Homo sapiens: one gene and its partners. The protein of the gene in region 6 purifies or fractionates together with the protein of the main gene of each other region. This does not show direct contact. Each region holds a gene or a part of one and is shown on either strand. Other genes may lie near its edges. The genes, in order: RAD52, SUPT16H, TOP3A, HMCES, PARP2, RPA2 and LIG3.

Region 1 (3,500 bases), on a different chromosome or scaffold from region 6:
GTGCCATGTTTTTTTGTATTTTTGTGCTTTTGGTGATTTTGCTGTTTATAGGGGCCTCCAAGAATAGAAGTGCTGTCTAGCATTTCCAAGTTGAAGGCTGTGATATATCTTATAGAGAAAAGATAAGCTTTTAGATTAGCTTTGTTCAGGCATCACTTTTGTTGTTGGCTGTGAGTTCATGTTACTGCATCAACAATATATATTAAATAAGATATCTTTAAACAGAAGCACACATAAAACAAGGTTATGTATTGGCCTGTTGAGTAACCCTGTATTTCCCCTGGGAGCAGTGGCTCAGTATTTGCTAGTTCAGTGTTCATGATGGCTTTACAGGACATAACTACCCTGAATAATGAGAACTGACTGTCTCAGTAGTGCTTCAAGGGCAGAAAGCCTAGTGGATATTTTTCCATCTCTGCAGCTTTTAGCATTTCTTCACTCAAGGCACTCATTTTTAATATTGAACTGGCAGTTTTGATGTGGAGAGAAGCTAAAATAAGGCTAAAATGCTCTTCATACTATGTGCTGAGTGGGGACTGTGCTGAGTGTTGGGGATTCAGTGATTAGTGTATGGCCCCGCAGTTCTCTAATGGCTGAGTGTGGGAGTGCAGAGAAATGATCAGTGTGAGGGAATTAATCCTATGTTCCCACCGTGTTTTTTTGTTTTTTTTGAGACGGAGTTTCACTCTTGTCGCCCAGGCTGGAGTGCGGTGGCGTGATCTCGGCTCACTGCAACCTCCGTCTCCCAGGTTCAAGCGATTCTCCTGCCTCAACCTCCCGAGTAGCTGGGATTACAGGTACCCGCCACCGTGCCCAGCTAATTTTTGTATTTTTAGTAGAGACGGAGTTTCACCATGTTGGCCGGGCTGGTCTCGAACTCCTGACCTCATGATCTGCCTGCCTCGGCCTCCCAAAGTGCTGGGATTACTGGGTTCCCACAAATTTTAAGACTTACTTCAGGCCAGGTGTGGTGGCTTATGCCTGTAATCCCAGCATTTTGGGAGGCCGAGGTGGGCAGATCACCTGAGGTCAGGAGTTCGAGACCAGCCTGGCCAACATGGTGAAACCCCTGCCTCTACTAAAAGTACAGAAAATTAGCTGGGTGTGGTCGCGCATGCCTGTAGTTCCAGCTACTCAGGAGGCTGAGGCACCAGAATCACTTGAACCTGGGAGGTGGAGGTTGCAGTGAGCTGAGATTGCGCCACTGTACTCCAGCCTGGGCAACAGAGTGTCTCCCCCTCAAAAAAAAAAAGACATACTTCAGAGTGTGGTGAGCTGCATAAGGCTTTAGAGGTAATGACATTTTGAGATTTCAATTAAAAATTTTTTTTCTACTTTTTTTTTTTGAGACAGAGTCTCACTCTTGCTCAGGCTAGAGTGCAGTGGTGCGATCTTGGCTCACTGCAACCTTCGCCTCCTGGATTCAAGCGATTCTTGTGCCTTAGCCTCCTGAGGAGCTGAGATTACAGGCACCTGCCACCATGCCCAGCTAATTTTTGTATCTTTAGTAGAGAAGAGGTTTCATCATGTTAGCCGGGCTGGTCTTGAACTCCTGACCTCAGGTGATCTGTCTGCATTGGCCTTCCAAAGTGCTGAGATTACAGATGTGAGCCACCGTGCCTGGCCACTTTTTTTCTACTTTTGCTAATTTTTTTAAAGTTTCATGAACATTATAGTACTGTGTTCATAAATGAAAATAAAAGAAACTTGCTCCAGTCTTGTTCATCAAGCCGTTCTTGACCTTCACAGTCAGAATCTCACCCATCACCTTGTCACATCTCCCTCTTGATCTGTATATCCAGAGTCCACCTGACATGCTTCTTCAGCCCTCCACATATAATAAGAAATGGTTTTGTGAGCCGAGATTGTGCCATTGCACTGCAGCTTGGGCAACAGTGTGAGACTCCTCAAAAAAAAAAAAAAAGAAAGAAAAATGCTTTTAGGTGATAAGGAAATGGAGAAGAATAAAACATCTTTGCCAGTCTTTACCTTTTTAATATCTTGAATTCATGATTTCTTGCCATAGCCACTATCCTAGTCCAGGCTCTCTCCCTTCTACCCCTGAGTTTTTTTTTTTTTTTTTTTTACCATGTTTTTATTTCCTCTGGGAAAACACCTATCAGAATTTTGGGATCATATGACAGATACATATTTAATTTCTTTCTTTCTTTTTTGAGACAGGGTCTTCCTCTGTTGCCCAGGCTGGAGTGTAGTGGTATGATCATGGCTCACTGCAGCCTTGACCCCTTCCTCGCCCCCGCTCAAGTGATCCTCCCACCACAGCTTCCTGAGTAGCTGGGACTGCCGGCATGCTCCACCATGCCCGACTAACGTTTTGCTGCTTGTAGAGACAGCCATGTTCCCTAGGCTTGTCTTGAACTCCTGAGCCTCAAGCGATCCTTCCACTTCAGCCTCAAGTGCTGGGATTACAGGCGTGAGCCACCACTCCTGGCTACTTAATTTCTTTCTTTCTTTTTTTTTGAGACAGTCTCGTTCTGTCACCCAGGCTGGAGTGCAGTGGGGTGATCTCTTCTCACTGCAGCCTCTACCTTCCAGGCTGAAGCAAGCCTTCCACCTCAGCCCCCTGAGTAGCTAGGACTACGGGAACATTCCACCAGGCCCAGCTAATTTTTGTATTTTTTGTAGAGATGGAGTTTCATGATGTTGGCCAGGCTGGTCTTGAACTCCTCACCTCATGCAATCCGCCTGCCTCAGCCTCCCAAAGTGCTGGGATTACAGGTGTGAGCAACTGCACCCAGCGGGCCCCGCCCAGACCTATTTTCAAAATTAGAAAACCGTGAGGCTTCTGGAAGAAGATGAGAAGAATATCTTCATGACCTGAGTGTGTGCAAAGGTTTCTTAGGGCTCAGGATGCCAGAGTCACTTAAAAAAGCAAAAAAAACCCAAAAAAAAAACCACACACACAAAGATAAATATGATTGATTACATCAAAATGTAATCACAGACTACTCTAAGAAAATGAATGGGGAAACACAGGGACCTATTTGACAAAAGACTGATATTCAAGATAAATAAAGAACTAATAGGCCAGGCGCGGTGGCTCACGTCTGTAATCCTGGCACTTTGGGAGGCCGAGGCGGGGGGATCACTTGAGCTCAGGAGTTCGAGACCAGCCTGAGCAATATAGTGAAACCCCATCTCTACTAAAAATACAAGAATTAGAATTAGCTGGGCGTGATGGCACGTGCCTGTAGTCCCAGTTACTCGGGAGGCTGAGGCTGGAGAATTGCTTCAGTCAGGAAGATGGAGGTTGCAGTGAGCCGAGATTGTGCCACTGCACTCCAGCCTGGGCGACTGAACAAGACTTCGTCTCAAAAAACCAGTAGGGCTCCAGGCCTGGGATTGGGCCTCTGCTGCTCTACTCCCTGGACGTGTGGCTCCGTCCTTGGAGTCGGCCTTTGGTTTTCATGAAGAGTAGTGTGCATTAACAGCTGAGTGGTTTTATCAGCCTGTTTCCTGCCAACAGTGTATGAGAGTTC
Region 2 (3,500 bases), on a different chromosome or scaffold from region 6:
GGCAAACTAGCACTTTAAGACATGCAAGGGCTGAAGACATTTATATTCTATGCATCCTTTTTTTTTTTTTTGCATGGGGTTACAGTGGAGCTAGTGGTGAGCTTTTTATTTATTCTTTTTTTGAGACACAGTCTCACTCTGTTGCCCAGGTTGGAGTGCAATGGCACGATCTCAGCTCACTGTGGCCTCTGCCTCCTGGGTTCAAGCGATTCTCGTGCCTCAGCCTCCTAAGTAGCTGGCATTACAGGAATGTGGCACCATGCCTGGTTAATTTCTGTATTTTTAGTAGAGATGGGGTTTCGCCATGTCGGCCAGGGTAGTCTTGAGCTCCTGGCCTTAAGTGATCTGCCCACCTCGGCCTCCCAAAATGCTGATATTACAGGCGTGAATGAACCACTGCGCCTGGCCCATCTTTTCTTACGAAGTTCTTAGAGAAAATGTGCTAAAGAAAAAACAAAGCAGAGGCTCTTGGATATAGGGGACCCAATATTGCAAAGTCCCGAGGTTCAACAGGCCTAAAGAGTAACCTATACAGATGGAGCAGGATAATGTGGGGGGTGGAAGTGGGGAGTGAGGTTGCTTTTAAGCAACAGAATAAAATTCTGAGTGTGAGAAATTTAGAATAAAAGACTGGTAACAGGATAATGTGGGGGGTGGAAGTGGGGAGTGAGGTTGCTCTTAAGAAACAGAAGAAAATTCTATGAGTGTGAGAAATTTAGAATAAAAGACTGGTAACATTATAATAGATTTATTGGAAAAAATTAAGGCTAGGGAGACTTTTTTTAAAGGAGAAAAACTGAGGAAATCATTAATGCCAGGAAAAATAAAAAACTGTAGAAAAAAAGGAAAGTTAATCATACTTTATTACTTCACCCAGCAGTGAAAACATCTATATGAACATAAACAATGTAAATAGTAACTACTTATTTTACTAAAAATTGTGGGGAAAAGTTATGAAGAAGGATGGATGTGTGATAAAGCAAGTACAACAAAATGTTAACTGTGTGGGGTGGTGGGTATAAAGGGTTTACTTAAAATTCTTTCAACTTTTCTGTCTTTAAAATTTTTCATATCAATGTGTCAGGAGAAAAATGTTAAGGTATCAGGAGGTAGGGAAGTTGGAATGAGTGTGATGACACAAAGAAGTTAAATTCAGATTTACCATAAGTTAATAACCGTTAAAAATTCACAAATCAAGAAATAGCAGTATATATAGATATTATTTAGAAATATGAAAGAAACAAAAAACTCAAAGTGGTTGCCTCTGGGATAGGTGACTTTTTGTTTTAAGGCTTTTATTAGAACTATGACTTTTAAAAAACTATATCTATTACTGATTAAAATAATTTTGAAAGTGAGAGTTAAATAAAATATAAAACAGGTGGCAAAGAATCTGCAAAAATTGTGAAGGTGGTATCTGGATGATAAAAGTTGGAGAAATAGTGCAGCAGCAGAACAACTATCTTCCTTTGAACCAAACTGATACTGCCTTAAAAAAAGAAAGTATTTTTGCAGTCTGGTTGTAGCTAAATACCCATATAATCAGTTACCACTGTTCACTGAGTGACTTCTATATGCCAGGCACTGTAGTTGTTAATAGGGATAAAAAGTAAATATAAAAAGTAGAGATCTAGGGCTGGGTGTGATGGCTCATATCTGTAATCCCAGCACTTTGGGAGGCTGGGGTGGGTGGATTGCTTGAGGCCAGGAGTTAGAGACCAGCCTGGCCAATATGGTGAAACCCCATCTCTACGAAAAATACAACAATTAGCCGAGCATGGTGGCACACACCTGTAATCTCAACTACTCAGGAGGCTGAGACACGAGAATTGCTTGATCCCGGGAGGCAGAGGTTGCAGTGAGCTGAGAATGCTTCACTGCATTCCAGCCTGGGTGGCACAGTCAGACTGTCTCAAAAAAAGAAAAAAAAAAAAAAAGTAGAGAACTAGACTATAAAAGCTGAGTAAGCAATATTTAAAAAAAAATCTCAATCCATCTGGGCATTTATTTCCATCTAACCCTCCTTACTCAGCATTATTAAAAAGTTTCTTGGCCAGGTGCAGTGACTTACACCTGCAATCTCAGCACTTTGGGATGCCGAGGTGGGCGGATCGCTTGAGCCCATGAGTTTGAGACCAGCCTGGGACAACACGGTGGAACCCTGTCTCCACAAAAAATACAATAAAATAAATAACAATAATAATAATAATAAAAATTGGTCAAGTGTTGTGGCATGCACCTGTGGTCCTAGCTACTCAGGAGGCTGAGGTGGGAAGATCACCTGAGGCTGGTTTGGTTGAGGCTGCAGTGAGCAGTGATTGTGCCATTGCAATCCAGCCTCAGCCACAGAGTGAAACTCAAAAAACAAACAAACAAACAAACAAACAAACAAAAAAACCTTTCTCTATCCCACTCCAGAGATAAAGGAGCTATTAAGAGCTGAGTGTGAGTGGAAGTAATCCACTGCCTGACTGAAATAACAGGAAATGCCTATACAGCTGGCTCTCCTTATCTGTGGATTCAACTGTGTACTGAAAATTAAAATGGCCAAACATTTTTCTATGTCATTACCCCCTAAAAAATAAGTATAACTATTATTTACATGCACTTACACTATATTCGGTATTATAAGTAATCTAGAAATAAAAAATAATGGGAGGATATACATAGGCTATGCAAATATGCCATTTTGTTATCAGAGACTTGAGCATCCTTTGATTTAGGTATCTAGGTATGTCCTGGAAGCAATCCCTGACAGATACTGATGGAAGACTGAATTTTTTTTTTTTTTTTAAAGAAATGGGCTCTCTCTCACTATGTTGCCCAGGCTGGTCTTGAACTCCTGGACTCAAGCAATCCTTCCACCTCAGCCTCTGGAGTAGCTGGGATTATACAGGCATAAGCTACTATGTATTTTTTAAAATCCTTCCTGAGCCACAGAACATAGCTGTTGAATCTTAATAGAACAACCCAGAACAAGAAACTAAGCCACCATAAAAATCTGCAAAGAGCCAGAAAGCTCCACTCAAGAGAAGCACTGACACTTTAATTCATTAGTTTCTTCAAAGGCATAAAATTTCTTTGGGGTCAGTCTTCCACTACCCCAATCCTGACAGTTGGTGTATGCTCACAAGAATGTGAGTATTCCTTCTGAAAACAAATATTTTTGACATTTTATGGAATTCTTCAAGAAAAAAGGCAGATGAAGTCAAGGTCCACTCATATCAGAATGTCCCAACAGGTAGGTCTCAAATGATATACAGATATGCCTGGATATTGTACCACTCAGCCCTCAAGGCAGCTGGAACCCTGGGATGGTAGATAACCTCTTTTGTTTCTCCCAATGACCAGCACTAATCATATTACTTGGTTAAAAATAATCGTAATCATGAAAAGGCTGGCAATCCCTGAAGAAGGATCTAGTAGGCATAAGAGGACAAAGAAACATGCAGCCCATTTCCAGGAACCACCACTACCACCTGCGATATTCTAATAATACA
Region 3 (3,500 bases), on a different chromosome or scaffold from region 6:
GAGTGTAGTGGCACGATTTCAGCTCACTGCAACCTCCGCCTCCCAGGTTCAAGAGATTCTCCTGCCTCAGCCTCCTGAGTAGCTGGGACTACAGGTGCGCATCACTGGCTAATTTTTGTATTTTTAGTAGAGATGGGGTTTCACTGTTAGCTAAGCTGGTCTCGAATTCCTGACCTCAAATGATCCACCCGCCTCGGTCTCCCAAAGTGCTGGGATTATAGGCCTGAGCCACCATGCCCAGCCAGACTTTTTTGTTTTATGTAGGGACAGGGTCTTGCTATGTTGCCTAGTCTGGTCTTGAACTTGCACCCTCAAACTGTCCTCCTACCTCAACCTCCCAAAGTGTTGGGATTACAGGAGTGAGCCACTGCACCTGGCCAGATTTGCCTACTTTAGTTATTTCCTATAAAGAGCCAGGCACAGTGGCTCACACCTGTAATCCCAGCACTTTGGGAGGCCAAGGTGGGCCAATCACTTGAGGTCAGGAGTTCGAGACCAGCTTCACCAACATGGTGAAACACTTTCTCTACTAAAAATGAAAAAATTAGCTGGGCTTGGTGGCAGGCGCCTGTAATCCCAGCTACTCGGGAGGCTGAGGCAAGAGAATCACTTGAACCCGGAAGGCAGAGGTTGCAGTTGATGGACACTTGAGTTGTTTCTACTCTTTGGCTATTATAAATAATCCTGCTGTGAACAGTTTTGTACAAGGTTTTGTGTGGATATGTGTTTTCATTTCTCTTGGGTAGACTTAGGAGTGGGATTGCTGGTTTACTTGGTAACTCTACATTTAACATTTTTAGGAACCACCAAACTTTTCTGAAGTGGCTGTACCGTTTTTCATTTCCACCAGCAAGGCACTAGGATTCCAGTTTATCCACATCCTTACTAACACTTAGTATTATCTCTCTTTTTGATTTTGCCAGTAGGTCTGAACTGCTATTTCACTGGTTTTTTTGGTTGTTTTTTTGTTGTTATTGTTGAGGTGGAGTCTCGCTCTGTTGCCCAGGCTGGAATGCAGTGGCTCGATCTCCGCTCACTGCAGGCTCCGCCTCCCAGGTTCATGCCATTCTTCTGTGTCAGCCTCCTGAGTAGCTGGGACTACAGGTGCCCGCCACCACACCCGGCTAATTTTTTTTTTTTTTTTTTTGTATTTTTAGTAGAGACGGGGTTTCACCGTGTTAGCCAGGATGGTCTTGATCTCCTGACCTCGTGATCTGCCCGCTTCGGCTTCCCAAATTGCTGGGATTACAGGCGTGAGCCACCACGCCCAGCCCTTTTTTTTTTCTTTTTTTTTTTAAAGAGAGTCTCACTCCATCACCCAGGCTGGAGTGCAACGGTGCCATCTCAGCTCGTTGCAGCCTCTGTCTCCTGGGTTCAAGTGATTCTCCTGCCTCAGCCTCCTGAGCAGCTGGGACTACAGGTGCGTGCCGCCACACCCTGCTAATTTTTGTATTTTTGATAGAGACAGGGTTTCAGCATGTTGGCCAGGCTGGTCTCGAACTCCTGACCTCAGATGATCTGCCCACCTTGGCCTCCCAAAATGCTGGGATTACAGGCATAAGCCACTGCTCCCAGCCTTCACTGCAGTTTTAATTTGCATTTCCTTCATGGCAGAGCTACATTTTGAAAGGTCCCTTTGGCCACAGCTTAAAGAATGGTTAGGGTAGAGGAAGAGACTAGAAATAGGGACACAAGCTGCAAGTATGGCTTGGACACATGGGGAAGAGAATTTTTAAAAAGAGCTTTGAAGCTGGAATTGACAGCTTTCCTGAGTAATGGGATGTGAGGGAACAAGAGAGTTGAGGTTGCCATTGTGATTTCTTGAATGAGCTATATGGGAATGAAATGAAGGCATCTTACCTGCATAGGCTGTCCAGGCAAAGGAGGGATTCCGGGGTGAGCAAGGTGCCCATGCGCCACCCGGGTGGAGCTGTTGTCTGTATTACCTCAGAGTAACCAGCAAGTGGCTTCCAGGTACGGATGCCACTCATGCGGAGCACATCGAGACCATCAAAGCCCGGATGTACGTGGGCCTCACCCCAGACAAGCGGTTCCTCCCTGGGCACCTGGGCATGGGACTTGTGGAAGGTAAGGGAGGACAGAGCTTGCAGTGGGTAGTGGGTGGTGTCGCCCAAGTCCCTGAGGGTCTCAGGTGGGCCCTCACTGAGCTCGACTCTCTCCCTGCAGGTTATGATTCCATGGGCTATGAAATGTCTAAGCCTGACCTCCGGGCTGAACTGGAAGCTGATCTGAAGCTGATCTGTGATGGCAAAAAGGACAAATTTGTGGTTCTAAGGCAGCAAGTGCAGAAATACAAGCAGGTTTTCATTGAAGCGGTGGCTAAAGCAAAGAAGTAAGTCCTTAAAAGAAATACAGAGGGGTCTCACTATGTTGCCCAGGCTGGTCTTGAACTCCTGGCCTCAAGAGATCTTCCCACCTCAGCCTCCCAAAGTGTGGGGATTACAGGCGTGAGCCACCGCATCTGGGCCAGTCAGAGTTTATAACCCTGCCAGATTCATCCTCACCAGTGGCCTCCTGGCCTGGAGGTTTTCCACATACCCCTTTTCTTTGGACTTTCTTCTCTGGGTTCTTTTACAACTCTCCATAGAGCTTTGTCAGTATAGAAACAGTAATCGGAACAGTCTCCTTCAGTTATTCTGAACTATTGGCTTTAGAAATACCATTCTCTTGATTTTAATTATCTTTTTTTTTTCTGCTTTAATTACATGACACATTAATTATCTTGAGTTAGGCAACAAAGTCTTTTAAATCAGTAAACCCAAGTGCTGGAGTGTGATCCATTTGTTTTCTGGAGCATTTAGAGGTGGATATTTAGCAAGCAGCATGTGTGTATTTTGTTAGAAATGATGTGTTTTCTACCTGTGATATTATGATTTATAATAAGATATATATATTTGGACTTCATTTTCTGATACCCTTGGAATTTTTTAAGTGCTGTGTCTGTTGTATACAAATGAGATGACTAGTGGCCAAGGGCTCCTGGGTAGCCTTGGGATCGGTCTGGTTGTCAGGGAACCAACCCTGTGATTAGAAGGTTGGGACTTTGAGTCCCACCCCTACCTCAGGAAGAGCAGAGGGGCTGGAGGTTGAGTTGATCACACGTGGCCAGTGATTTGTCAATCATGCCTAAGTAATAAATCCTCCATAAAATCCCCAAACAAGGGTCAGGCACGGTGGCTCACGCCTGTAATCCCAGCACTTTGGGAGGCCGAGGCGGGTAGATCACAAGGTCAGGAGTTCAAGACCAGCCTGGCCAACACAGTGAAACCCCTTTCTCTGCTAAAAAAAAAAAAAAAAAATACAAAAATTAGCCAGGCATGGTGGTGCGTACCTGTAGTCCCAGCTACCTGGGAGGCTGAGGCAGGAGAACTGCTTGAACCCGGAAGGTGGAGGTTGCAATGAGCCGAGATTGCCCCACTGCAGTCCAGCTTGGGCAACAGAGTGAGACTTCTTCAACAACAACAAAAACAAATCAAACA
Region 4 (3,500 bases), on a different chromosome or scaffold from region 6:
GCATGCCTCAAAGGAAATACGTTCATAGGAGGAAAACTGTGCCCCAGGATTTAAGACTGCAAAAGATAAAAAATTTTACATAACCTTCCTTCCACAACTTCACAATAACTCATGAGATGCATTTCTTCCAACACTCACTTCCACAAGCAACAAGCAAACTTCAGGTCTTGTCGAGGTAAAGTGCCATATTTATTGTAGTATGTATGTATGTATGTATTTATTGAGATGGAATCTCACTCTGTCACCCAGGCTGGGGTGCAGTGGCACGATCTTGGCTCACTGCAAGCTCCACCTCCCGGGGTCACACCATTCTCTTGCCTCAGCCTCCCATGTAGCTGGGACTACAGGAGCCCGCCACCATGCCCGGCTAATTTAGTTGTTGTATTTTTAGTAGAGACGGGGTTTCACCGTGTTAGCCAGGATGGTCTCGATCTCCTGACCTCGTGATCCACCCACCTCAGCATCCCAAAGTGCTGGGATTACAGGCGTGAGCCACCGTGCTCAGCCTGTAGTATTTATTTATTTCTTAACCACCTAACATGTATAAAACAGTGCTACTGTTTTATTAGGTTTCCATTATTTTTTTAATGTGTCACTGACAACATTTTAAGTGTTGTCTCCTTAACCCCACTTTTCCCCTAAGTTATTTGGTTTTTATTCTATCGTTTTGCATAGTACAGTGATTTTTAGGAATGTATGTCATGTTAGAGTCAAACTGATTGTAACTTTACGTTGTAAAATGACTTGGTTTCCTACTCTCTAAAGCTACCTAAAAGCAGAGGACAAATCATCTTTTGGATCCTTTTGGATCCAGGGCTAAGAAGTATGACTTGCCTGTGGTGGATGTCACTCAAGCCTTTGCAGGAATCCACTGTGATGATGGTATAGGAATACAGGACATCTCCTCCCTCTGGGGGCTCCCAGCAGTCAAAGATCCCGGCCATTGTCAGCAGCCTCCAGTTGTCCCAGACTTTCTCCCAGTTCTCAGGACTATCTGCAGCACCAATGCTACCTGACTGGAAGCAAAATATATGGGCAGATTAGATGCACTCAGCAGACTTCTTCTACATGCAGGTTAGGTACTACTTCAGACTCGAGAGCACGGAAATCATTTTAAAAGTAATTCAGCCCACGTCTTATTAACCCCTCTGTCACCAAAGGAAAGAAGGTTGGTGGCAAATGCCAACTGAAGCTATAGATTCATGGCTCCTTAATACTTTCAGAATTTAACACCTTCACTGGACATTTAGGCCTTCCGTGAACTGGCCCACCATTCTAGCTATTACTTACATTGTTAATTTGAACCCAAACCAGCTGTTGGTAAATGAAGCTCTCATGCAATTTCATGCTCCTGTGTCTTGCTGAAGCAACCTTCCTCTGCCCAAAATGTCCTTCCCACCCTTTCTTAATTGAATTGAATTTCATGCCAATTCCTAATTGCCATTCAAAATTCAATTCAAGGACTAAAATGTAGAAAGCTGGAAAGAACGTCACTTCTATTCTAACAATAAGAAAAAAGCTGGATAATATGCAAAATTATAACTTTTCTTAAACTCATCAGAGAGGTAAGTCGATCAATTTCCCTGAAATTTAAGAAAAGACAAGGTCCTCCAAGGGGCAATGGGACACAAGTACTGGCTTATTGGCAGCATCAGGAGGGAGACACAAGCCTTCATACAACCAGGTTAAGAATTCAGATAATGTTATTATCACATTTCTACAAGCAGCGTACAGGCTAGCAGGATAGTACAGAATCCCTAGGAGCTGCAAACCTCAGAGGAGTTTGCACCAGCTCACAGGCTTTTCTCCTTGGACTTTGCCAGTGCTCGAAAAAGACGGCACAGGGCAGGAGCCTGGAGGAAGCCATCCTCACTGTTGAATACCTTAAAGGCAAGCTCCTCTGCCTCACCTAATCACTTTTCCCCTAAGGAGCAAAAGTCTTAAGCTGCCAGGGAAACGGTAATAATAATAATCCCTGTCACGCCTAGGAATCAGGTAAAGACCCACAGAGGCTGGGGAAGGAGAAAAAGAAAAAGCCCCCTACGCCCTGGGGAAGACTGAGTCAGAGAGCCACATCTGCTTAAGATAGACTGAACGGAGAACTGCCTCCACCCGTTTAGCCGACAAACATTAAGTGACAAGCAGAAGCAGTCTACTTCTGGAAGAGGGAAAAGGGCACAAGAAAGACCATGTCTAAGGCACAGGCTCACAGGAAAATCCAACAACTGAAGAGAGGAGGGCTGCTGAGAAACCCTCTGGAAAGTCAATCCTTACCCTAAACACTGGATAACACCAGAGCACTTGAAAGCCTGTGTCAAACAAAGGCACTGTAGCCTGGTCGTGGTGGCTCATGCCTGTCATCCCAGCACTTTGGGAGGCCGAGGCAGGCGGATCACGAGGTCAGGAGATCGAGACCATCCTGGCTAACACGGTGAAACCCCGTCTCTACTAAAAATACAAAAAATTAGCTGGGCCTGGTGACGGGCGCCTGTAGTCCCAGCTACTCGGGAGGCTGAGGCGGAGCTTGCAGTGAGCCGAGATCGCACCACTGCACTCCAGCCTGGGCAACAGAGGGAGACTCTGTCTCAAAAACAAAAACAAAAACAAAACAAAGGCACTGTAATGAGAACAAAGCCCAAACCCAGTTCAATTCCTGACAAGACTGACTTAACCCCATATATTAATGGCCTAATAGAAGAATTTCCAGACATAAATATTATTAATCTCAGTCTCTGTCCTACATATCATCTCTGGCAACAATAAAAAATTACAAGACACACAAAAAAAGCTAAAGCAATCAACCACCAAGAGATATAGAAATTAACAGAACCAGATTCAAGAGATTATATTTCCCAGATGCTGAAATTATCAGAGAACTTGAAGTAAGTAAAATTAATGTCAAAGACTCTTGTGGAAAATGTGGACAACATATATGAACAGATAAGGAACGTTAGCAGAGAGACAGAAACTATAAGAAAGACTCAGTGAACTTAAAGATAGGTCAATAATGGCCAGGCGCAGAGGCTCATGCCTGTAATCCCAATACTCTGGGAGGCCAAGGCAGGCAGATCACTTGAGGTCAGGCGTTCAAGACCCACCTGGCCAACCTTATCAAACCCCGTCTCTACTAAAAATACAAAAAAAATTAGCTGGGCATGGTGGTGCATGCCTGTAATCCCAGCTATTTGGGAGGCTGAGGCAGAATTGTTTGAACCTGGGAAGTAGGGGTTGCAGTGAGCCAAGATTGCACCACTGTACTCCAGCTTGGGTGACAGAGCGAGACTTCATCTCAAAAAAAGAAAAAAAACGGTCAGTGAAAAGTATCTAAACTGAAACAGAGAAGAAAAAAAGAAAGAAAAATGGAGAGAATATCCAAGAACGATGGTACAATTAAATCATCTAACACATGTGTCATTAGAATCCCAGAAAGAGAAAATGGGGCAGAAGAAATATTTGAAGAGGAAAAAGCCAAGAAATTTCCATAAATTATGAAAGATATC
Region 5 (2,385 bases), on a different chromosome or scaffold from region 6:
TATGAGTTCAAAGTAAGAAAAATGATCATTTATTTTCATATTCTTGCACCCTTAACCACCTCCCCCATCCCACTGTTCTCTAACTACTTCTTGTCAAGAGCAAATTGTCAATTAGGGCAGACTTTTTATGTACTAGGGATTTGGGAAGGCCAAGCTTTTCCTAGCTGCCTTGTAAGACTGTTTGGGAGCAGAAAGGTCTGCCAAGTTATATCAGAATCCCCAAATTCTTCAGTTCAGCTCAGTCTCTTGTAGAGTCTACATCAGCCTTTTTGTCTTATTTTTCACAGGTGATTTCCCAGTACCTACAATCTACCCATGCTCCCACACACAGCGACTATACCATGACCTTGCTGGATTTGTTTGAAGTGGAGAAGGATGGTGAGAAAGAAGCCTTCAGAGAGGACCTTCATAACAGGTCTGAGTCTAGCTTTGCGTTTGGAAAGACACTCCTTGCCCGAAAGTACAGCTGTAGAACTTATAAGAGGGAGTCAGAGGAAGGTGTTGGCTTTTTTATGCTTATGGCCTATCTGTGCAGAACAACAGAGTACAATAATATTGGCTTTTCCTTAGGATGCTTCTATGGCATGGTTCCAGGATGAGTAACTGGGTGGGAATCTTGAGCCATGGGCTTCGAATTGCCCCACCTGAAGCTCCCATCACAGGTTACATGGTGAGTGAAATTGAACTCTGGGAGGAGCACAGGGGAAAGGGATACAGTAATGTTCTCAGTGCTTTTTTTCCTAGATTAGGATTAGATGGTTCCCCTCCCCAAGAGTTAAGCCAGCTCACTGATAACCTTGTCATCTCTTACTGTGTCCCTCTTTCTTTAAATTCCTAAAGATACCTCACCTTTCCCTCAGAAGGCGGAAATTCACAGGGGCTTCTACCCTCTCTAGAACAGAATTGTGAGGGGAAATGGAGAAGGGTCTATATTGTGTTTAAGGGAATGGAAAAACAGGGTCAGTGGTATGCACCTTCTCTCTAACACAGTGGGTTAGAAGCTGACCTTGGTATTCATGTATATATTTCAGTTTGGGAAAGGAATCTACTTTGCTGACATGTCTTCCAAGAGTGCCAATTACTGCTTTGCCTCTCGCCTAAAGAATACAGGACTGCTGCTCTTATCAGAGGTGAGACAGGAGTATGTCTGTGATCTCTAGTTTATTAATTCCAGTTTTTTTCCGATGAGAAAAGTTTGACCCCAGAACCAAGAGGTTTACCTGGGATAGCTTGAGAGAGGACCAAGTACAATTTCTAGTACATTGGATTCCTCTGCTGGAGTAGGGGAAAAAAGTACTGATGGGATTTTCTGTTTGGCTTTGGAGCCATCTAATTCTTAGTAGGATATGGGAATTCAAAGGTTTTTTGCTTTGCAGGTAGCTCTAGGTCAGTGTAATGAACTACTAGAGGCCAATCCTAAGGCCGAAGGATTGCTTCAAGGTAAACATAGCACCAAGGGGCTGGGCAAGATGGCTCCCAGTTCTGCCCACTTCGTCACCCTGTAAGTACTCAGAACCAGGAGGACTAGAAGACTCCTTTTGGCCAGATAAGACTACGTTCTCTATTGCAGCTTCTGAACCAGAGACTGATGTTGACACACTTTTTTTCCATTTGGCAGGAATGGGAGTACAGTGCCATTAGGACCAGCAAGTGACACAGGAATTCTGAATCCAGATGGTTATACCCTCAACTACAATGAATATATTGTATATAACCCCAACCAGGTCCGTATGCGGTACCTTTTAAAGGTTCAGTTTAATTTCCTTCAGCTGTGGTGAATGTTGATATTAAATAAACCAGAGATCTGATCTTCAAGCAAGAAAATAAGCAGTGTTGTACTTGTGAATTTTGTGATATTTTATGTAATAAAAACTGTACAGGTCTACCACTGGCTTCTTCGGGCTTTATTTCTCCAAGAACATATTTCTTCTGACATTAGTAGATCTCCATTTCCAGGACAGAAATTACTCATTGCTCTGAGGGTTATTCAGTATCCTGTTCTTAGTGGCATCTGTGCATTGAGGGACACTAATGGGGGCGCTAATGCTTTTACCTGTTTAATTCAATTTTTCTGCAAACTGGAATTTGTTGAGTATTATCACAGGAAGGGTAGAGGCAACAAAGGCTAAGTCGTGTTTTTCTTTCCCATGCATATGTATTCACTTGCCTTTTTCAAATTTATCCACTGCAGCCTAGGTCTCCCACTACTCAACATCCTAGGACTCATCACATGTCCAAAAATTTGGGAAGCCCTTGGAGGACTGTCACTAAGCCTGAATACATCTTGAGGAGGAAAGGAAAAAAGTGGAATGAGTTTTTACATAACCTGCTCCAACTAAGAAGTACTAAAGTCCAGGTCAGATCCTGATATGGTTAGGCTTTGTG
Region 6 (3,500 bases):
AGATCACCTGAGGTCAAGAGTTCCAGACCAGCCTGGCCAACATGGTGAAACCCCATCTCTACTAAAAATGCAAAATGCTGGCACATATAGTCCCAGCTACTCAGGAGGCTGAGCCAGGAGAATCGCTTGAGCCCGGGAGACGGAGGTTGCAGTGAGCTGAGATCACGCCATTGCATGCCAGCCTGGACAACAGGAGCGAAACTCTGTCTCAAAGAAAAAAAATTTAAAAAGATGTCCAACATGGCCAAGCTCTTACTCCATTTCCCCAGGAGCTCCATTTGATAGTCAAAAAATCTGTCCTACAAGAAGCTATTCTTCTACCTTTTACAGTTCATCACAAGACCTACAAGCAATTCCAAAGTCCTGTCTCCATTAGTCATTTCTCAAACCTTTTCCCAATACCATCTCATTTTGTCAGTGACCTGAACAGCAGCACCAGCCTGTCTACACCCTAAAGCTGGGGTTTCCTCTTGAAGGTCTGTTCTGGCAGCAGCAGGTCATTCTTCCTTATCCTGTCCCCCACTCTGACCTATTCATTTTGGTGAATTCTCAGAGCAACATGTGTATCTATTCAGCAGGAGCTCTGGAGTTAGACAAACCTGGGTTTGGATTCTAAAAGTGTGGTATTGGTTTGCTATATGACCTTGGTTTCCATCTCTCTGAAGCAAGGATAATGAGATTTGTTTTGAAATTCAATGTTCTAATATATTTAAAGTACTTGGCACATGGCAGGTGTTGAATGAGTGGTAGTTATTACTTTCTTAATTGAATTTTGCATGTTTTTTCTTTTCAGAGAGCCCGAGCCCAGCACATTGTGCCCTGTACTATATCTCAGCTGCTTTCTGCCACTTTGGTTGATGAAGTGTTCAGAATTGGGAATGTTGAGATTTCACAGGTATGTCAAATAATTTGTGAAAGAATCACTTACTCATAATAAAGAATGAAATAAGACTTCATTAAAAAATACAAAAATGTAGCCTTGGTTTCAGGGGGAACCAGACCTTTTTTTTTTTTCTTTGTTTCTTCTAACCTAGGTCACTATTGTGGGGATCATCAGACATGCAGAGAAGGCTCCAACCAACATTGTTTACAAAATAGATGACATGACAGCTGCACCCATGGACGTTCGCCAGTGGGTTGACACAGATGTAAGTGGCTGTTTTTGAATCATGATGGGGTTACTTTGGAACTGTGGAGATGTTGAACTTTTTTAGTCTTTTTAAAGTTTTTTCTTATAAAAATAATACAAAAAGACATCAAAGACAGATACTCTAAAGTAAAAGGTTAGTAGATTTGACTATATACCTTCCCAATATACCAAAAACAGAATTAAAAGTCAAATGACAGGAGACAGTAGAATGTTAAGTTCCATTAGAACAAAGTTTTTTTTGAGACAGAGTCTCACTCTGTCGCCCAGGCAGTGCAGTGGTGGAATCTCGGCTCACTACAACGTCCGCATCCCGGGCTCAAGCGATCCTGTGCCTCAGCCTCCCAAGTAGCTGGGATTACAGGCACCTGCCACCACGCCCGGCTAATTTTTGTATTTTTACTAGAGATGGGGTTTCACCATCTTGGTCAGGCTGGTCTTGAACTCCTGACCTTGTGATCCACCTACCTTGGCCTCCCAAAGTGCTGGGATTATTACAGGCTTGAGCCACCACACCCAGCCCCTGCTTTTTTGTTTGTTTGTTTGTTTGGTTTTTTTTTTTGAGACAGAATCTTGTGCTGTCACCCAGGCTGGAGTGCAATGGCGCAATCTCAGCTCATTGCAGCCTCTGGGCCCCAGGTTCAAGCAGTTCTCCTGCCTCAGCCTCCCAAGTAGCTGGGATTACAGGCACCCGCCACCACACCTAATTTTTTGTATTTTTAGTAGAGATGGGGTTTTGCCATGTTGGCCAGGCTAGTCTCAAACTCCTGACCTCAGGTGATCCACCCTCCTCAGCCTCTCAAAGTGATTGGATTACAGGCATGAGCCCTCACGCCCGGCCTAGAACAAAGATTTTTATCTTGGTCACCGCTGTAGCCTTAGCACCTAGAGCAGTGCTAGTCACATAGTGGTCCTGGAATAAGTATTGTTTAAATGAATGTGGAAAATATTTGCAACATATTACAAACATTTAAATTTTTAATTAATATAAAGCTCCTTTTTGGCTTGGCATGGTGGCTCACGCCTGTAATCCCAGCACTTTGGGAGGCCGAGGTGGGCGGATCACGAGGTCAGGAGATCAAGACCATCCTGGCTAACACGGTAAAACCCTGTCTCTACTAAAAATACAAAACATTAGCCGGGTGTGGTGGCAGGCGCCTGTAGTCCCAGCTCCTCGGGAGGCTGAGGCAGGAGAATGGCATGAAGCTGGGAGGCGGAGCTTGCAGTGAGCCAAGATTGCGCCTCAAAACAAAAAAAGACAAACAGTGGTGACCTAGCAGAACTCCACAGCTTAGGAGTTTACATCAAGGAAAGAATTAAAGACAGGTACAAAGATTTAGGCCAGTGAAGTGGCTCACGCCTGTAATCGCAACACTTTAGGAAGCCAAGGCAGGCAGATCACCTGAGGTCAGGAGTTCGAATCCAGCCTGGCCAACAGGTGAAACTCCGTCTCCTAAAAATACAAAAATTAGCCGGGCGTGGTTCTGCGCACCTATAATCCCAGCTACTCAGGAGGCTGAGGCAGGAGAATTGCTTGAACCTGGGAGGCAGAGGTTGCAGTGAGCCGAGATCATGCCACTGCACTCCAGCCTGGGCGACAGAGCAAGACTCTGTCTCAAAATGAATAAATAAAAATAAAGCAATCTCAAAATACTAGCAATAAAGGATTATTAAGTAAACCATGACACATTTATAACATACTACAAATGATACAGAAAAGCGTGTATTGCCACAAAGAAGTGTTTGCCATAAATTGTTGAGAAAAGCATATTACAATGTGGTATGCAGGATTTGACCCAATTTTTACAAAGCAGCATATATATAAGTGTCTTTATAAACATGGATAAAATAGACTGAAATACAGTATATACTTTTTATCCTTTTATTTTTCAATTGTGCAGAAGGCCTCTTGGTGTTTTGTATTTTGTTTTTGAAATACATTCATTACAGAAAATTTGGATAATAAAGACTGTTTTAGGCTGGGCATGGTGACTCACGCCCGTAATCCCAGCACTTTGGGAGGCCAATGCTGGCGGGTCACCTGAAGTCAGAAGTTTGAAACCAGCCTGGCCAACGTGATGAAACTCCATCTCTACTAATGATACAAAAATGAGCTGGGTGCCTGTAATCCCAGCTACCCAGAAGCTGAGACAGAAAAATTGATTGAACCTAGGAGACAGAGGTTGCAGTGAGCCAAGATTGCGCCACTGCACTCCAGCAGATTGCGCACTGCTCTGTTGCTCTGGGCAACAGAGCAAGACTGACTCAAAAAAAAAAATGCGGTTCTCCTTCAAAAACCACAAGTTATCTATAGAGAAATAACTTGGTAGTTATGTAATTTTTAAATTTTTTC
Region 7 (3,500 bases), on a different chromosome or scaffold from region 6:
GGAAGATAATGAGAAGGAACAGATAACCCAGCACATTGCAGGTAAGGTAGAGAACACTGCTTTCTCATCTTACTGGTGCTGAGAGAAAAAGGGATAAGGAGTTCAACTGCTTTCTTTCTCTTTTTTTTAACTTTGCTCTTTTAGAGATGGGGTCTCACTCTGTTGCCTAGGCCAGTGTTTAATGTTGCATTCGTAGCTCACTGCAGCTTTGCACTGCTGGACTCAGGTCATCCTGACTCAGCCTCCCAAGTAGTTGGGATTACAGGCGCATGCCACCATGCCCAGCCTTTAACGTTTTATTTGGAAATAATTTTAAACTCACTGAAGTGTTGGAAGATTAAAAATAGTACAAAGAACATTCATATTCCTTTTACCCATATTTACCTATTAACATTTTACTCTATTTGCTTTATCATATTTGTTCATGTGCTGTCTCTCTCTACATACATACACACGTGTGCGTGCACTCACTTTAAACCATTTGAGAATAAGTTGCATACATCATGGCCCTTTAAAATTCTTCAGTGTATATACCTTAAGAATAGGATATATGACCCTTATGCGACTATAATATAGCTATCATCTTCAGAAAATTTGTCCTTGATGTAATACTTAAATCTACCATCTGTATACTATTTTGTCAATGGATTGAGTCATACCTTCAGTAGCCTTTTCCTGCAGTATAGGATCCCAGTCTAGGATCATATCAGGTGTTGCATTTAGTTGTCATGTTTCTTTGGCCTCCTTTAATCTGAAATATTTCCATAGTCTCTCTTTTATGACATTGATATTTTGGAAGAATAGAGTACTGATTACTATCCTCTTTTACTTTTTTTCTTGTAGCATATAATTCATTACTGTACTTAACTAATTTGATACTTAATTGTCCCATATTTGGCCAATTAGGAACCCCTTTACACTGTCCTCTGTGTCCTGTATACCTTCATTAACTTTTTTTAATGTACTTCTTTACTCTTGAGCATAGCAAGATGCTTTTAGTCTTATCCCGTATGTATCCTTCCCCAGCCCTGAAATTGGTAATTTCTCTGGGGATTCCTGTTAGTGGGAAATGCCCCTGTTAAAGAGTAAAACCTGGATACTATGTGTCCACATTGTCATGGGGTATCTGTTTCTTCTTTTTTTTTTTTTTGAGAGTCTCACTCTGACCCAGGCTGGAGTGTAGTGGCACTATCCTGTTAGTGGGAAATGGTATTAAAGAGTAAAACCCGGATACTATGTGAACACATTGTCATGGGGTATCTGTTTCTTCTTTTTTTTTTTTTTGAGACAGAGTCTCACTCTGTGACCCAGGCTGGAGTGCAGTGGCACTGTCTTAGCTCACTGCAACCTCTGCCTTCCAGGTTCAAGCAATTGTCCTGTCTCAGCCTCCCAAGTAGCTGGGACTACAGGCACTTGACACCACACCCAGCTAATTTTTGTGTTTTTAGTAGAGACAGGGTTTCACCATGTTGGTCCAGCTGGTGTTGAACCCCTGACTTCAAGTGATCCACCCACCTTGGCCTCCCAAAGTGCTGGGATTACAGGCCTGAGCGCCCAGCCATGGCATGTCTGTTTCTAAGCCCTTTCAGCAGACAGAGCTAGAAAATATGTGCGTGTATATGCATGTAAAATTCATACCTATATATGGCTATATATAACATGTTTGCATGTACATGCATATTTACATATGCATATTTTAGAAATTTTATGCCAATACCCCCAAATCCAGTTAGTCCTCTTTGACCTTCAGTGTCTGTAAAATAATGTTCATATCTTCAACTTAGTTCTGGTCACCATAGGAAGACAGTTAACAATGGCTCTAAAAATGGGTATCTGTCCTTGTTCTTTGAAAGGAAAAAAGACTTCCGGGAAAGAAAACTGTGCTTCCCATATACTTTATTCTCAGGCTCCCCATCCCACCTTGCACTGCCTTAGCTATTGGCCTCGGCCTTTGTTACTTCTTGACCCATCTCTCATTTGGAGGAAGAGAAATACAGGTAGAGTTCATGACTCAGATAACTAAGCATCTGGAAATTTTCCTTCCTATGCTAGGTTGACATGCTCTGTGATCCTCATTTACTTTTTGTTCATCTCTAAATTGAAGCTAATTCTGTGGGGTTGGGGGTTCCCTAAGTTTTATCCATCAAACTATGATTTCTGATTTCCCCCAAATTGTTATTTCTGGAGACTTACATATGGGATAAGAAGTGGAGAATGTTGATGAAAATTTAAGGTACTAATAGAGATAAATGGTAACTGGATCTTTTGTCTCCAGCATATCCTTCCCTTCTGTCCCCACAATACCCTATTACCTACTACCCCCACTCAAAAAATACCAGCCACCAGCCAGCCTTGGGCTAGTGCTAGGGTAGTGACTTAACAAGCAAGGCCCTAGGAGCAGTTGATAGATTCTTTGGATGTTTTTTTCAGAGATCGTTCACTGAAGGATATTTTATACTCTTTTGGGATCCTACAGATCTGTCTTCTAAGGCAGCAGGTACACCAAAGAAGAAAGCTGTTGTCCAGGCTAAGTTGACAACCACTGGCCAGGTGACTTCTCCAGTGAAAGGCGCCTCATTTGTCACCAGTACCAATCCCCGGAAATTTTCTGGCTTTTCAGGTAAGATAGGTTAGGGCTACTTTAGCTGTTATAGTGCTGCTTTTATTTTGTATTCTACCTAGGATTCTGGCTAAAGAGTGAAAATTCTGTGCTATCTCATCTCATTAATAATTTGCTTCTGTCTGAGCAGAGACTGGTAATGGCTAATTCTAAGCCTTCCGCTTGGTTTTTGTTTGTTTGTTTGTTTTTTGGTTTTGGGGGTTTTTTTGAGATGAAATCTTGCTCTGTCATCCAAGCTGGAGTGCAGTGGTGCATTCTCAGCTCACTGCAACCTCCGCCTCCTGGGTTCAAGCGATTCTCCCACCTCAGCCTCCCAAGTAGCTGGGATTACAGGCACCTGCCACCATGCCTGACTAATTTTTGTATTTTTAGTAGAGATGGGGTTTCGCCACGTTGGCCAGGCTGGTCTCAAACTCCTGACCTCAGGTGATCCACCTGCCCCAGCTTCCCAAAGTGCTGGGATTGCAGGCGTGAGCCACTGCGCTCGGCCAGCATTCCACTTGTATAGCATTTCTTTGTATACTTTAACCTCTATCGCAGCGGAAAGATTTGTTTTGTCAAGACTTTTTCCCCTTGAAATAGTTACCTGGGCCAGACAGAGATTATTAGAACCTGTCTTTTACTTCCTTGTGTTTTGATAATGAAAGAATTTTGAGAAATTGTTTCCCTGAATATGCCTAGAAATGAAAGTATGAAAGAAGGGAGATGTCATGCATGGATCTCCCTTCTTGATTCTTAAAACTGTTTATTCAAAACACTGGAACTTCATGGAACACAAAGGAAGGAAAAAAAGATCTGAAGGATATTGCTATTTGTTGGGAGGCAGTACAGCCTAGGGATGAAGCTTGCAGACTTTGGAATCAGTGAGCTCTGGGTTCAA

Evidence for each region.
Region 1: the proteins of RPA2 (region 6) and RAD52 purify together in Homo sapiens (affinity purification with western blotting; 3 studies listed by BioGRID and IntAct, with this or other methods). This does not show direct contact.
Region 2: the proteins of RPA2 (region 6) and SUPT16H purify together in Homo sapiens (affinity purification with mass spectrometry; 3 studies listed by BioGRID and IntAct, with this or other methods). This does not show direct contact.
Region 3: the proteins of RPA2 (region 6) and TOP3A purify together in Homo sapiens (affinity purification with mass spectrometry; 4 studies listed by BioGRID and IntAct, with this or other methods). This does not show direct contact.
Region 4: the proteins of RPA2 (region 6) and HMCES purify together in Homo sapiens (affinity purification with mass spectrometry; 4 studies listed by BioGRID and IntAct, with this or other methods). This does not show direct contact.
Region 5: the proteins of RPA2 (region 6) and PARP2 purify together in Homo sapiens (affinity purification with mass spectrometry; 3 studies listed by BioGRID and IntAct, with this or other methods). This does not show direct contact.
Region 7: the proteins of RPA2 (region 6) and LIG3 purify together in Homo sapiens (affinity purification with mass spectrometry; 4 studies listed by BioGRID and IntAct, with this or other methods). This does not show direct contact.

Annotation. Positions count from the first base shown.
Region 1 is NC_000012.12:943,195-946,694, reverse strand, and holds part of RAD52 (DNA repair protein RAD52 homolog), read left to right. Parts: intron 1-3,500. UniProt on the Homo sapiens protein: Involved in double-stranded break repair. Plays a central role in genetic recombination and DNA repair by promoting the annealing of complementary single-stranded DNA and by stimulation of the RAD51 recombinase.
Region 2 is NC_000014.9:21,377,520-21,381,019, forward strand, and holds part of SUPT16H (FACT complex subunit SPT16), read right to left. Parts: intron 1-3,500. UniProt on the Homo sapiens protein: Component of the FACT complex, a general chromatin factor that acts to reorganize nucleosomes. The FACT complex is involved in multiple processes that require DNA as a template such as mRNA elongation, DNA replication and DNA repair.
Region 3 is NC_000017.11:18,283,995-18,287,494, reverse strand, and holds part of TOP3A (DNA topoisomerase 3-alpha), read left to right. Parts: intron 1-1,974; coding exon 1,975-2,088; intron 2,089-2,187; coding exon 2,188-2,353; intron 2,354-3,500. UniProt on the Homo sapiens protein: Releases the supercoiling and torsional tension of DNA introduced during the DNA replication and transcription by transiently cleaving and rejoining one strand of the DNA duplex.
Region 4 is NC_000003.12:129,295,870-129,299,369, reverse strand, and holds part of HMCES (abasic site processing protein HMCES), read right to left. Parts: intron 1,017-3,500; coding exon 835-1,016; intron 1-834.
Region 5 is NC_000014.9:20,356,020-20,358,404, forward strand, and holds the end of PARP2 (poly [ADP-ribose] polymerase 2), read left to right. Parts: coding exon 1-12; intron 13-287; coding exon 288-415; intron 416-570; coding exon 571-670; intron 671-1,031; coding exon 1,032-1,130; intron 1,131-1,376; coding exon 1,377-1,501; intron 1,502-1,618; coding exon 1,619-1,778; 3' UTR 1,779-1,885; downstream 1,886-2,385. UniProt on the Homo sapiens protein: Poly-ADP-ribosyltransferase that mediates poly-ADP-ribosylation of proteins and plays a key role in DNA repair.
Region 6 is NC_000001.11:27,904,576-27,908,075, reverse strand, and holds part of RPA2 (replication protein A 32 kDa subunit), read left to right. Parts: intron 1-793; coding exon 794-895; intron 896-1,034; coding exon 1,035-1,148; intron 1,149-3,500. UniProt on the Homo sapiens protein: As part of the heterotrimeric replication protein A complex (RPA/RP-A), binds and stabilizes single-stranded DNA intermediates that form during DNA replication or upon DNA stress.
Region 7 is NC_000017.11:34,983,512-34,987,011, forward strand, and holds part of LIG3 (DNA ligase 3 isoform alpha precursor), read left to right. Parts: coding exon 1-41; intron 42-2,476; coding exon 2,477-2,620; intron 2,621-3,500. UniProt on the Homo sapiens protein: Isoform 3 functions as a heterodimer with DNA-repair protein XRCC1 in the nucleus and can correct defective DNA strand-break repair and sister chromatid exchange following treatment with ionizing radiation and alkylating agents.